Linked DNA regions of Homo sapiens. The protein of the gene in region 2 interacts with the protein of the main gene of each other region in a pairwise test. Each region holds a gene or a part of one and is shown on either strand. Other genes may lie near its edges. The genes, in order: SOX8, NOD1 and GLE1.

The links.
Region 1: the proteins of NOD1 (region 2) and SOX8 interact in a two-hybrid assay, tested with the Homo sapiens proteins (one large-scale study listed by BioGRID and IntAct).
Region 3: the proteins of NOD1 (region 2) and GLE1 interact in binary tests that used the Homo sapiens proteins (3 or more experiments, as listed by UniProt).

The regions. Positions count from the first base shown.
Region 1 is NC_000016.10:980,259-984,648, reverse strand, and holds the start of SOX8 (transcription factor SOX-8), read right to left. Parts: upstream 2,880-4,390; 5' UTR 2,727-2,879; coding exon 2,305-2,726; intron 922-2,304; coding exon 689-921; intron 1-688. UniProt on the Homo sapiens protein: Transcription factor that may play a role in central nervous system, limb and facial development. May be involved in male sex determination. Binds the consensus motif 5'-[AT][AT]CAA[AT]G-3'.
Region 2 is NC_000007.14:30,451,200-30,454,841, forward strand, and holds part of NOD1 (nucleotide-binding oligomerization domain-containing protein 1), read right to left. Parts: intron 1,842-3,642; coding exon 17-1,841; intron 1-16. UniProt on the Homo sapiens protein: Pattern recognition receptor (PRR) that detects bacterial peptidoglycan fragments and other danger signals and thus participates in both innate and adaptive immune responses.
Region 3 is NC_000009.12:128,539,091-128,542,732, reverse strand, and holds the end of GLE1 (mRNA export factor GLE1), read right to left. Parts: intron 3,118-3,642; coding exon 3,035-3,117; coding exon of another isoform or gene 3,019-3,034; exon of another isoform or gene 2,856-3,018; intron 2,459-2,855; coding exon 2,395-2,458; intron 1,632-2,394; coding exon 1,563-1,631; 3' UTR 445-1,562; downstream 1-444. UniProt on the Homo sapiens protein: Required for the export of mRNAs containing poly(A) tails from the nucleus into the cytoplasm. May be involved in the terminal step of the mRNA transport through the nuclear pore complex (NPC).

The DNA.
Region 1 (4,390 bases), on a different chromosome or scaffold from region 2:
TGGGGCCGGCCAGGCTGGAAGGGGAGGGACGCCCGCGCTAACTGCCAGGGGGATCAACGGCTTTTTGTTTCTTTACATTTCCCAGAAATTCCAGCAAAGTCAGACCTAGACCTCACTCCTCGGCCGAGAAAATTCCATGAAGCGCTGTGCTATGAGAAGACCCGAGGCCCCTCCCAGAGACCAAGGTGGGGGGAAGAAGCCGACAGGCCCAGCCTGGCCAGAGCTGGGGTTTACAGGGCGCTGGGGGACCACACAGACCCTGTTCCTCCCCGGGCCAGCCAAGCACTCTGAGGCTGGCGGGCGTCAGCCAGCCTGACCGAGGCCCCGGCAGGACTCCACCCTGTCAGTCTGGCCCTGAAGCTGGGGCTGCTGAGTGCCGTGTGGGCAGCAGCTCGGTGTGGGAAGAGGAGCCCGCATTGGACTGAGTCTTGCTGAAAACACCACCTCTCGGGGTCCCTGCCAAGCAAAGCTGTCAGCCCCTCAGCACTCAAGGTGGCTAAGCAGGTCCCTCGTGCACCAAAAACAGGGGCGGCCGGGGCCTTGGGAGCTTTTTCAGGGAACCCGGGGAAGGCCCGGTTCTCTCGAGGGCGCCTGCCCCCCTCCACCATCATGCACCCTTCTCAGCCAGAAACCCCACAGCTGCCTCCCATACAGGGACCCTCAGATATGCGGGGGGCCTGGAGCCCACCTGTGTGGTCGCCATGGTGGTGCCCATCTCCAAGCCCTGCTTCAGCCTTGTACACGGCACCGCCGCCAGGGTGGGGTCCCAGCTCCGCGCCCGAGTCGGAGTCGCTGTGGCCGGCTTTGGCGCTCTTCCTGCGCCGTGGCTGGTACTTGTAGTCGGGGTGGTCCTTCTTGTGCTGCACGCGAAGGCGCTCTGCCTCCTCCACGAAGGGCCGCTTCTCGCTCTCGCTCAGCAAGCTGCAGCACAGGGCAGAGGCAGGGATGGCCAGGGCGCCCACTGTGCCCTCGGCGCAGGCACACACCACAGGGGGAACCGGCAGCAGAGGCCGGGGCCAGGAGGCTCTGACCAGGGAAACCCGCCTGCCGTGCGCTCCGGAGCCTCCCGTGGCACCAGGCAGTACACTCCTCTGGGAGAACCGGCCGGCGCCTGTTTGGGAAGGTTGGTATGCTTACGACAGCCAAAGAAGAACAAGCCCCACGCCTCCCATCTTCCTCCTTCTATTTCCCCCTATTCCGGGCCTGCTGTTCCCTCCCTCTGGGGCTTTCTAAGGGAGGCGGGGGAGGCGGGCAGGACCCAGCCGGCGGTGGACAAAAGCGAGGCTTCCCGGGAACGGTGCCGGCCTTCGGCGGGCAGCTGGGCTGCTGTCCCTCCATTCCCAGACACCCAGAAGCCCTGGCAGGGCCCAGGCGCCCGTCCTCACTGAGCCACAGGACACACTCCTTGGGACTCTTCCCGAGGCTCACCTCCAACCGCCTGTGCGGCAGGACTTGGGGGAGCAGGGGCCTGCCGTCCACAGCGCCCCGTGGCTGCGCCCTAGATCCAGACAGAAGGCAGGAGGTGCAAATACGCAAGCTCCAAGCTCCCTTCTTCCAGGTGAGGAGCAGGATACGGGAACCAGAGCCCCAAACCAAGAGAACCATTTGAAACCCAACCAGAGGACACTCGGTGGGGGCGGCCTGTCCTGAGCAACAAGTTCTTCACTCTGCAGTCCTAATTTCTGGAAAACTGACCGGCCCCACCACGCCAAGGCGTGCACACGGCGCACCCCGTCATCTCCACTCCTGCCCTCCCTGCTTCGGACCGAGGGTGTCCAGGAGAGGGAGAAACTGCGGGGAGGGTACTCGCAGGCAAACCTGCTGCCCACCCATCCGCCTGCCGCACTCCCTCCCCATGGGTGGTCCAGGAGCTAGAGGAGCTGAGCCCTTTCTAAGGAGGGAGCACCTCCAGAGAGCCGCATGCAACTTGCTGTCGTGCCGGGCGTGCCTCCCGGGGCTGGGGCCACTCGCAACGGCTGGAGGGCACGTCGGGGTGCCAGCCATGGCCCTCCGCAGGGTGTTCCCCGCCAGGAGAACTGGCTCCAGAGCGCACCCGCCACGAGGGTGCACACCCCAGGCGCTGCCCTCCGCGGATCCCGACTCCCATAGCTGGCGCCGGACCCCGGCTGGCCAGAGGATGTTTTTCCACTGGGACCCGCCCTGACACCCGCCCGGGGTGCAGAGCCCGGAGCCTGCGTGTGGCCACCACCTCCGCGAGCTCTGCGCCCTCCAGGCCCCCGCTCGCAGTCCGAGACCAGGGGCGGCCAAGGTCCCGAACCCCGCCCCCGGGGCGCCGGCACTCACCGCCACAGCTTGCCCAGCGTCTTGCTGAGCTCGGCGTTGTGCAGGTGCGGGTACTGGTCGGCCAGCTTGCGGCGCGCCGCCTGCGCCCACACCATGAATGCGTTCATGGGCCGCTTCACATGCGGCTTGGCTTTGAGCGCGCCGCCGCCGCCGCCGCGCACCGGCATGGGCACCAGACTCCAGTCGTAGCCCTTGAGCACCTGCGACACGGCGTCGCGGATGCAGGCCGGGAAGCGCTCGTCCGCCGCCTCCGCCGGGTCGCCCCGGGCGCCCCCCACCGCGACCCCCGCGCGGCCCAGGCCCTCGGAGCCGGCGGGAGACGGCGGCGCGTCCGAGTCCGAGTCCTCCACGTGCGACATGGAGCTGGCGGTGCCGGACGGGCTGCAGGGCGGCTGGGAGCGGGCCTCGCTCATGTCCAGCATCGGGGCCGCGCGCGGAGGGGCGCGCACAGGAGACGCGCACCGGGGCCGGCGCCCGGGGCTGCCCTGCGGTCGCTCCGGGACCCGAGGTCGCCGCGCGGTGGCCCCGACCCTCGCCCCTGCCGCCGCCGCCGCCGCCGCCGAGGCTCGGGTCCCGCTGCGGGACCCGCAACAAGTTTCTTTAAGCGGCGGCCCCGCGGCCCCGCCCCGCGCCCGGCTACCCATTGGCGGAGCGCGCCCCGATCCCCCGGAGGCGGAGCCCGGCCGCCCCCGCCCCCCCACCCATAAAGAAAGCTCCGCGGCTCTCGCCGCGCCCCCGCCTGCCCCGCCCGGCGCCGCACCACGTGGGCCAGGCGCCCCACGCCTGGAGCTCCCCTCTCTGGAGCCCCGGGAAAGGAAGCGGGGCAGGGAGGCCGGGTGGGAGCAGGGGGGTCTCCGGCGCTTCCTCTCCTCTGCGGGCGCCGCGCGGCTCCTGAGAGTCCGCCCCCCGTCCTGACGCTCAGCTAGGAAGCGGGTCCTCGGGCCCCTCCCCCGACACACACACACACACACACACACACACACACACACACACACACTCTCTCTCTCTCTCTCTCTCTCTCTCTCTCTCTCTCTCTCTCTCACACACACACACACACACACAGCCCGTCTCGCGCCTGAGGTCTCGCCCGCAGGCCGGTGGCGCGGGGTCAGCTGCTGCCTGCGGTCCAGGACAGGGTCGGTTCCGCCGCGCAGCGCCCAGGCCCAGCTCGTCCAGAGTCTGCGGACAGCGCACGTCCAGGTAACGCGCTTCAAGGGGCCGCGGCTCGGAGCTGGGGGACCCCGGGCCGCCCTGCCCATACGAGTGCGAGCGTGGAGAGCGCGGGCGGGGGCGCGGTCCCGGGGGCCGGCCAGCTGGAGGGGGCGGGAGCGCTGGGCGGGGCCTGCGCTGACCCCGGCGCTGAGTCCCTGGGGCCGCCGGGCGGATGGCGTGGCCGGACGCGGGGGCCCCGGGCCTTCCGGGCGTGACCTAGGGCTCGGGGGCGGGGAGGCCCCTCCGGCGGGGCGGCCCTGGGTGGTCCGGCAGAGGCGGAGGCCGCTCCGAGCCTGTGAGCCCTGGGCGCCTGCGGAGGCGGGGAGAGGGCGGGGTGTGCCGCCCTGGTGGGGACCGCGGGGTCGGAGAGGGGACATTGCCCCCCCCGAGGCGAACGTCCAACCGCGGGTCCGGGTCCCCGCCCAAGGCCGCCCCGCGAGGTGGCCTCGGCCCGGCCGTCCCCGAGGGTGGCTCGGATCCTTTCAACCAGCGCGCTGGAGGCGAAGGGGCTGCGCCATTCCGGGTCAGGCAGCCAACGCGGGACACGCGCGTCTCCGAGCTTGCGGCCCGCGAAACCCGGGTGACCTACCGCGCCGGTGCCCTCAAAGCCCCCACGCCCGGGCCGGTGGCCGCTGCAGCCACTGAGCCACGCGGTCTCCCCGGCCCGGTCGGCAGAAGGAGCTGGTCCGTTACTAGAAAAGTCCAGATGCAAAGTCGGGGGTCGTGCTGCCGCTTCCTGCCAGCGCACCGCACCCACCTGGGGCCGCCACCGACCGCACAGGACGCGCCTCCTACCCCCTGTTCTGGCCCGGCCGAGAGCTGGTGCCCCCAGCGGCCGCCCGCCCCCGTCCGCAGACCCCGGGGCCCTTGCTGC
Region 2 (3,642 bases):
TGCCTGGCAGCCTCACCTGAGAACAGTGAGGCGGCTGAAGCAGGGCTGCAGCTCCCGCACGCCGTAGTCGTTGAGATTGTTGTTGTCTAGGTCTAGGGCCAGCCGCTTGGGGAAGTGATGCAGGACGAAGGAGAGGGCGCTGCAGTCGGCCGAGCAGGCGTTGCAGTAGGTCAGCTTGAGGTAGTTGGCGCAGATGCCCCTGGCCGCCAGCTGCCCCACCTTCTGGCTCTGTGTCTCGTAGATGCAGCGCAGCATCCAGATGAACGTGGGCATGGCCTGCACCTGGTTGAAGCTTTCGACCTGAACGCGGGGCAGGCTCTTCAGGTAGCCCCGCAGGCTGGAAAACAGGTGTGCCCACAGGGCCTTGCGCTTTCTCCTCAGGGCTGCCGCGGGCACCAGATGCCGCAGGAGTTTCTGTTTGGCTTTGGACAACAGCCCGCACAGGAAGAGGTTGGTGAACTGGAAGTGATCCTTGTTCTTGAAGAGGTCTTCCCGCGCCGGACCACTGCCCTGCAGGCACTGGAACGGGAGGAAGGGAGGATAGCAGGACGTGGTCGCTGCCCCCGCAGGGGGCATCCACTCCTGGAAGAACCTGAGCAGCTCCTGAGTGCCCACCCTGTCGTCCAGCACGAGGAAGAAGGCTGTAAAGAAGGCCTGGAGGGTGAGGTGGAAAAACTCATAGGACTGCTGGTCACCCCCGGGGCCCAGCTCCGGCAAAGCCCGCAGGAAGCCCAGCTGCATGTCTCTCTCCTGCAGCCCGGAGGCCTGCACCTCCTCCTGGGTGAAGACAAAGAGGCTCTTCTCCATGCCCCGGTGGGCCACCTGCCCCAGCGAGCACAGAGTGTCCCGGCCGGCGTGGAGGGTCTCCACTGGGCTGCGTGTGTTCCGCTGCACCAGGCTGCTGGGCTGCATCCTGTTCAGATGGACCTCAGTGACCAGGAGGAAGACATCTGTCAGGGTCATCGTGCAGTCGGGCAGCTGTGGTGAGCCTTCAAAGGCAGCACGGAAGTGCTGGAAGCACCGGAAGATGATCCAGCAGAAGAGGGGCACAGAGCACAGGCTGCAGAGGTTGGGGTTGGCCTCCAGCTGGCTCAGCAGGCGGTCCTGCAGGGCCCGCTCGGGGAACATCCTCCTGGCATAGGCGCGCAGGTGGCTGGGGGAGAAGCCCCGGAGAAGCACCTTCTTCCGCAGGAACTGGCGCGGGACCTCGATGCCTGTGCGGGCTGTGAGCAGCTTGCTAGCCCCCTTGAGCAGCTTCCCACTGAGCAGGTTGGCCAGCAAGACCAGGGGGTGGGCAGGCTCCCAGGGGCAGGAGCTGTCAGGCACGCGGCTCAGGTCCAAGTCCGAGTGCAGCTCGTCCAGGCCATCGAAGGTGAAGAGGGCCACGTGGGGGAAGCGCAGCAGGAAGGCAAACACCTCCTCGGGGTCCCGCTCTGGGTAGCAGTAGTGCTTGAAGAGCAGGTCCTGCAGACACAGCCTGTCACTTTCCTTGAAGCAGCTGAACATGCGGCAGCGAAAGTGGAAGAAGAATTTGACCCCTGCGTCTAGCCGGCCCGTGGCCCAGAGGCTCTGCAGCCGCTGTAGCAGCATGGACTTGCCCACCCCAGCATCACCCAGGATGAAGATGGTCTCACCCTGCTCATTGAGGATGCCGGTGGTGTGGTCCAGGAGGCAGGCCAGGCTGTTCAGGCTGCCCAGGCTCTCATTGCTGAAGCCAACCAGCTCCATGATGGTGTCCATGTAGATCTCCTCCAGCAGCAGCTCCTCCTTCTGGGCATAGCACAGCACGAACTTGGAGTCACGGCCCAGATGGTGTCGCAGCTGCTGGGTATACCTGCTCACTGGAGGGAGGGGGTGGCAGGGCACAGCAGCAGGGTGAGGAGAGAGGCAGAAACAGCATCAAACAGGGAGGTCTCAAAGAGGAGAGGCGAGTGCATAAACAAAATTCACAACCTGGGCCCTGAGGCCAGCGCAGCCACTCCTCAGATGCAGGACCTGGGGAGCGTCACAGAGCCAGCATTCCTGACCCTGAGGGCCCCAGGCTTTGATCTCTCTGCTTGACCTCAGATTTGCCAGAAAGAAGGTGACAAACTTCAGCTGGGATCAGTGTCTGAGACAGGCCACCCTTATTCCTCCGCACAGTGTCATCACTGAACTGCAGCTAAACACTGAAGCCCCTCGCACTCGAGGGCCAGGCCAGATGGCCACGCTGGCCCTCCTCCACCAACACTGCTTTTTTGTTGTTAGAGATAGGGTCCTGCTCTGTCACTCAGGCTAGGGTGCAGTGACCCAATCATGCAGTCTCAAACTCCCAGGCTCAAGCAATCCTCCCACCTCAGCCTCCCAAGTAGCTGGGACACAGGCATATGCCACCAAGCCCAACTAATTTTTGTGTTTTTTTGTAGAGACGGGGTCTCGCCATGTTGCCCAGGCTGGTCTCAAATTCCTGGGTTCAAGCGATCTGCCCACCTCGGCCTCCCAAAGTGTTAGGGAGTGTTATATATTTGTCAGTAATTTTTAGTAAGTTTACAAAGTTGTGCAAACCTCACCACAGTCCAGGTCTAGAACATCTCTACCATCTTCCCAGAGTTTTCTGGAGCCTATTTGTAGCCAATCCCTGGGCCGTAGGCAACTACTGATTTGCTTTGTCTATAGATTTACCTTTTCTGGACATTTCATATAAACAGAATCATACAATATGTAGTCTTTTGTGTGAGACTGCTTGTAGAGTGAATTACACTGTAAAAGCTAGTAAAGTAGCTGGCTAACGGAACCAACAGAGAAGTCTTTCGAAAGAATGATTCCTCATGGGAATACTTTCTTTTTTTTTCATGGGGGAAGGAAACAAGGGGAGACAGGAAGGAGCAGACAGAGTCAGAAGCTAGCAGTGGCTGGCAGGCACCTGCAGGGGCTGTGGAAGCTGGAGCCTAGCACTGACACTCTGCCGGCTGGCCTTGTTTCCCCTAAGCACACACCTGTCTTGTGCTTCTGTTTCCAACAACATATTGGATTCTTTAAAAGGCAGGACTTAGGTCCTTGGTGCTGGTATGTTACCAACAGCTGTCTCAAAGTGGAGAGTTCAAAAGCAGGGAAAGAAGACTCCTGCCCCAGAGCAGATCCTGGCCCTAATGATATGTTCTCACATGCCTTGGACTGCCGCTGTCCTGACACATTTTTGAGATTGCTGACTGGTGGTCTCTTCCAGCTGACTTGAAGCTCCCTGAGGGCAGGAACCCTGTCTGTGTCTGCTCACCACTGTCTCCCTGACATCCAGCACAGTGTAGGGTCTTGGCATGTGGTGGATACAGCAAAAAATACTTATTGAACTAATCAGTTAACTGATGGGGTCTTCCATTAGTTTGGAAATAAGGACTGGCACTCAACGGTGACAGAATACTTTGCCTAGAATCAAACCTGGCAAGGCTTTTTAATTTTTTTCTTTCCTTTTTTAGAGACAGGGTCTCACTCTGTCACCCAGGCTGGAGTGTAGGGGCACAATCATAGCTCGCTGCAGCCTTAGACTCTGGGGCTCAAGCAGTCCTCTTGCCTCAGCCTCCTGAGTAGCTGGAACTACAGGTGTGTGCTACCATGTCCAGCTAAAGATTTTTTTAAAAGAAAAAAAAATACAACCTTGAATTTGTG
Region 3 (3,642 bases), on a different chromosome or scaffold from region 2:
TTTAGTGGAGACAGGGTTTTGCCATGTTGGCCAGGCTGGTAAGACGTGAGCCACCGCGCCTGGCCAAAAAAATTTGTTTTAGACATGGGGGTCTCACTATGTTGCCCAGGCTGGTCTTGAACTCCTGGACTTAAACAATCCTCCCACCTCAGCCTCCCAAAGTGTTGGGACTGCAGGCATGAGCCACTAAGCACGGCCTATTGTGTCTTTCAAAGATTTTAATACACTTTCACATCTCTTGCTAGATAAAATAGGGTCAGTTATTAGTACATAATTCCAAAAAAGGAAATGACAGAAAAAGAAGTAATATTCCCAAGGTGTAGGTCAAGAAGACCAAAAGGAATAAATGCATACCGCTCTATACCTGGACTTGTATACTATCATGATTTACATAGCTCAAGGCAGAGGAAATTGATCATATTGAACCAATATATCAGCAATGGGTTTTTCAAAAAACCAAGCTTTATTATTAATTTTTTTTGGCACCTTAATTAACAATTCATAGAATGGGTCACTTCAGGCCACTCAAGAGTACCAGTGAACACTCCCCCACAAACACACCCTGCCACAAGACATTTAGCACAGAGGAACAGATCCATGGCCACTGCCTCTGCAGTATCAAAGAGAATTAGTCTTTCCACAAAACAAATTTTAACAGCCAATCTCTGGATTTCTGTAGTGGCTTTAGTCAGGCATATTTATCATCATATTAGCAGTGTTCAGTTCCTGCCCAACATCTTTATTTAATCCCAATTCAATGCTTATGGATGCTCAGCTCATGTTTAATGTTGCAAGCCCCATCTTAGCCCATCTTAATTCAAACAGAAAAGAAACAAAACAAAACAAAAACAAAAAAGGTACCTGCCTGGTTCATGGATCCCTAGCCATCCAGGGACCAAATTCCAAATTAGGATGACAAAGAGTTTCCCTTAGTTCAAAATGACATGTGTTTCCAGTCCTAATCCCAGATGTTAATCTAGCCATAGTGTCACCTGAGCCTTAGTCCATGTGTATATCACATACTTCCTCTAGCTTTAGAATGACTTCACAAGCTGAGAAAGGCAAAACAACCATAACCCAGACTTGCATGTAAGTATCTGGCCTCAACTATTAAATAATACTTAAAAGGGAACCTTATGAGCCTTAGCTCTTTCTGGAAATTCATCTGAACAGGGGTGAGGGTGGGTAGGTGGGTGCAAATGGTGGGCTCCCTCCAGCTCAGAGTGCATTTGTTAAGGTATTGCCAACTTTCTGAAAGACACTAGAGACAAGGGAGGAGACCAAGTGCTAAAGACCTTTTATCACTTTTGCAAAAAACAAGAAAGGCCAACTCCATTTATTTTATCACGTGGATCTCTTAAGGAACTACCAAATCTACTAAGGGACCTCCAAGAATTTTGTGACCCATGAAAATCTCCTCTCCTAGTCACAAGGCATAAATACATAAAAATACATAATGGCAAATTTCTGAATCTGACATGACTTCTCCCAAATACAGCTGTCTTCAGTTCCTTTATTATTGCCTCTTTGCAGCAGCGGTGATGGTGGGTGATGGAGTGACATCAGGAGCGCCAGAAGGAGGAAGTCAGAAAGCCCTTGGGGACAGGAATGTCCTTGTGTTGCAAACATTTCTGGTCAGGGAAAGATGAAGAAAACAGAATGAGTTTCTGATAACAGTGTTCCCAACACTTAATGGTTAAAAGAAGCTTTGAGGAACACCATATTTCAGCCCTATGGAACAGTGAACAAAAAGGAAAAAGCCAGTAAGACTGATGGTTCTGTATAAGATGTCCACTTCTGCATGATCTGCTCCAGACAACAAATGAAATGCTCTTATTATTCCTGTCCCACTCTTGTCTCCCTACAGGCTAACCTCATCTTTCACAATCACTATTTTCACAATCGAGCTTTGAGAAGCTGAAAAGTCAGCAGGCTATCTTGGCAAACCCACTATAGTGTTCTAAATTCTTTGTCAAAATTAACCTTTTACAATCTCTTGGCACTTGGAAGTAGGGGAAGAGTCCAACTGAAAGTGCAGTTTGATCTCATGGAGAAAAGTGATGACACTTACCAATTCCCCAGACCTGAGACTAAGAAAATAACCTTGGCCAACATGCAAAAAAAATATATATTAATGAGAGGAGATACACTAAATATATTTTACTCATCTCAGCATAGCTTTCTCACAGGCAGTATAGAGAATGATACATATAAAGAAGAGGAAATGGCAGCCCTTACTCCAAAGGTTAAGAGGGAATTAGGAACAAAAAGAAGGGTTTGGAAGAACTAAGGAAGAGAGTGCAATCAGAGCATCGGAAGGTCCAAGACTTGTCAGACATAGGTGCATTCCAGCCCAACAACAGTGTGGGGCATGTTGGTCTAAGGGCATCTTACCTCCAAGAACTGCTTGAGGCGTATGAAGGAGCCCATCTGTCCTGAGCTTGTGATAGCTTCAATTCTACAGGGAGAGAAAGACACATGAATCACACCTATGATATACACCTATCTTTTGGAAACGGTGTCTCACTCTGTCACCTAGGCTGGAGTGCAGCGCGGTGGTGCGATCATAGCTCACCGAGGCCTTGAACTCTTGGGCTCAAGCGATCCTCCTGTCTCAGCTTCCCTAGTAGCTGGGACTATAGATGCATGCCATCATGCCTGGCTAATTTTTTTTTTGTAGAGATGGGGTCTTGCTATATTGCCCAGGCTGGTTTTGAACACCTGGGCTCAAGTGATCCTCCTCCTGTGGCCTCCCAAAGAGCTGCAATTATAGGCATAATTATAGGCATAAGCCACTGTGCTCAGCCCCTAATTTGTGTTTTTGTTTGGGCAATGATATTTAAGACAGACTCTCATTAAGGTTCAAAAGCATTTATTCAAATATCAACGAGAGGGACTGGAGTAGGAAAGATGTCATACTTAGTACAGGTGTTTTTAACTTGAATCAAAACCAGCAGGTAATAGCACCCTTGGGTATCTGAGGCCTGGTTATGAGTTACTTAATCCCCTGCTGTCTGCTCAACAAGCCTGATACCTGGGAAAGTAGTCCTCTTTGATGAGAATTAGCATCTTCCAGAACTGAACCTGGTATTGCTTCATGAGGGCATTCCCACACACCTAGAGGGAAAGACAGGCACTGTCAGAGCAGAAAATGAAAATTCACACTCACAGGACAGATTCATAAAGCACAATCAGCCCTTCATCTTTCACACCTATCAAAAATTTCAACCACAATGCCACTGAACTTGCTAACAAGGGAATAAATGGAAACACCCAACTTTCTTCTAAAGCATTTCTCTTTATATGGCAATATCTCCATTTAACCAATCAGGTCTTAATGAACTACTCTTCTTTTCCTCTAATGAATGGACGCCTTCCTAAAGGTATGGTATACCTCCCAAACTTAGTAAGGAGAGTATACAGAATACCACTTGTGTTCTCAAATGATACAGGATCATTGTTCATGTATGGTGACTTCAGGAGCTTTTTATTTTTTTTTGAAATAGGGTCTCACTCTGTCGCCCAGGCTAGAGGACACTGGCATGATCACAGCTCACTGTAGCCTCAACCTCCCTGGGCTCAGGTGATCCTCCAACCTCAGCCTCCTCAGTAACTGGGACCACAGGCACACACCACTAATTT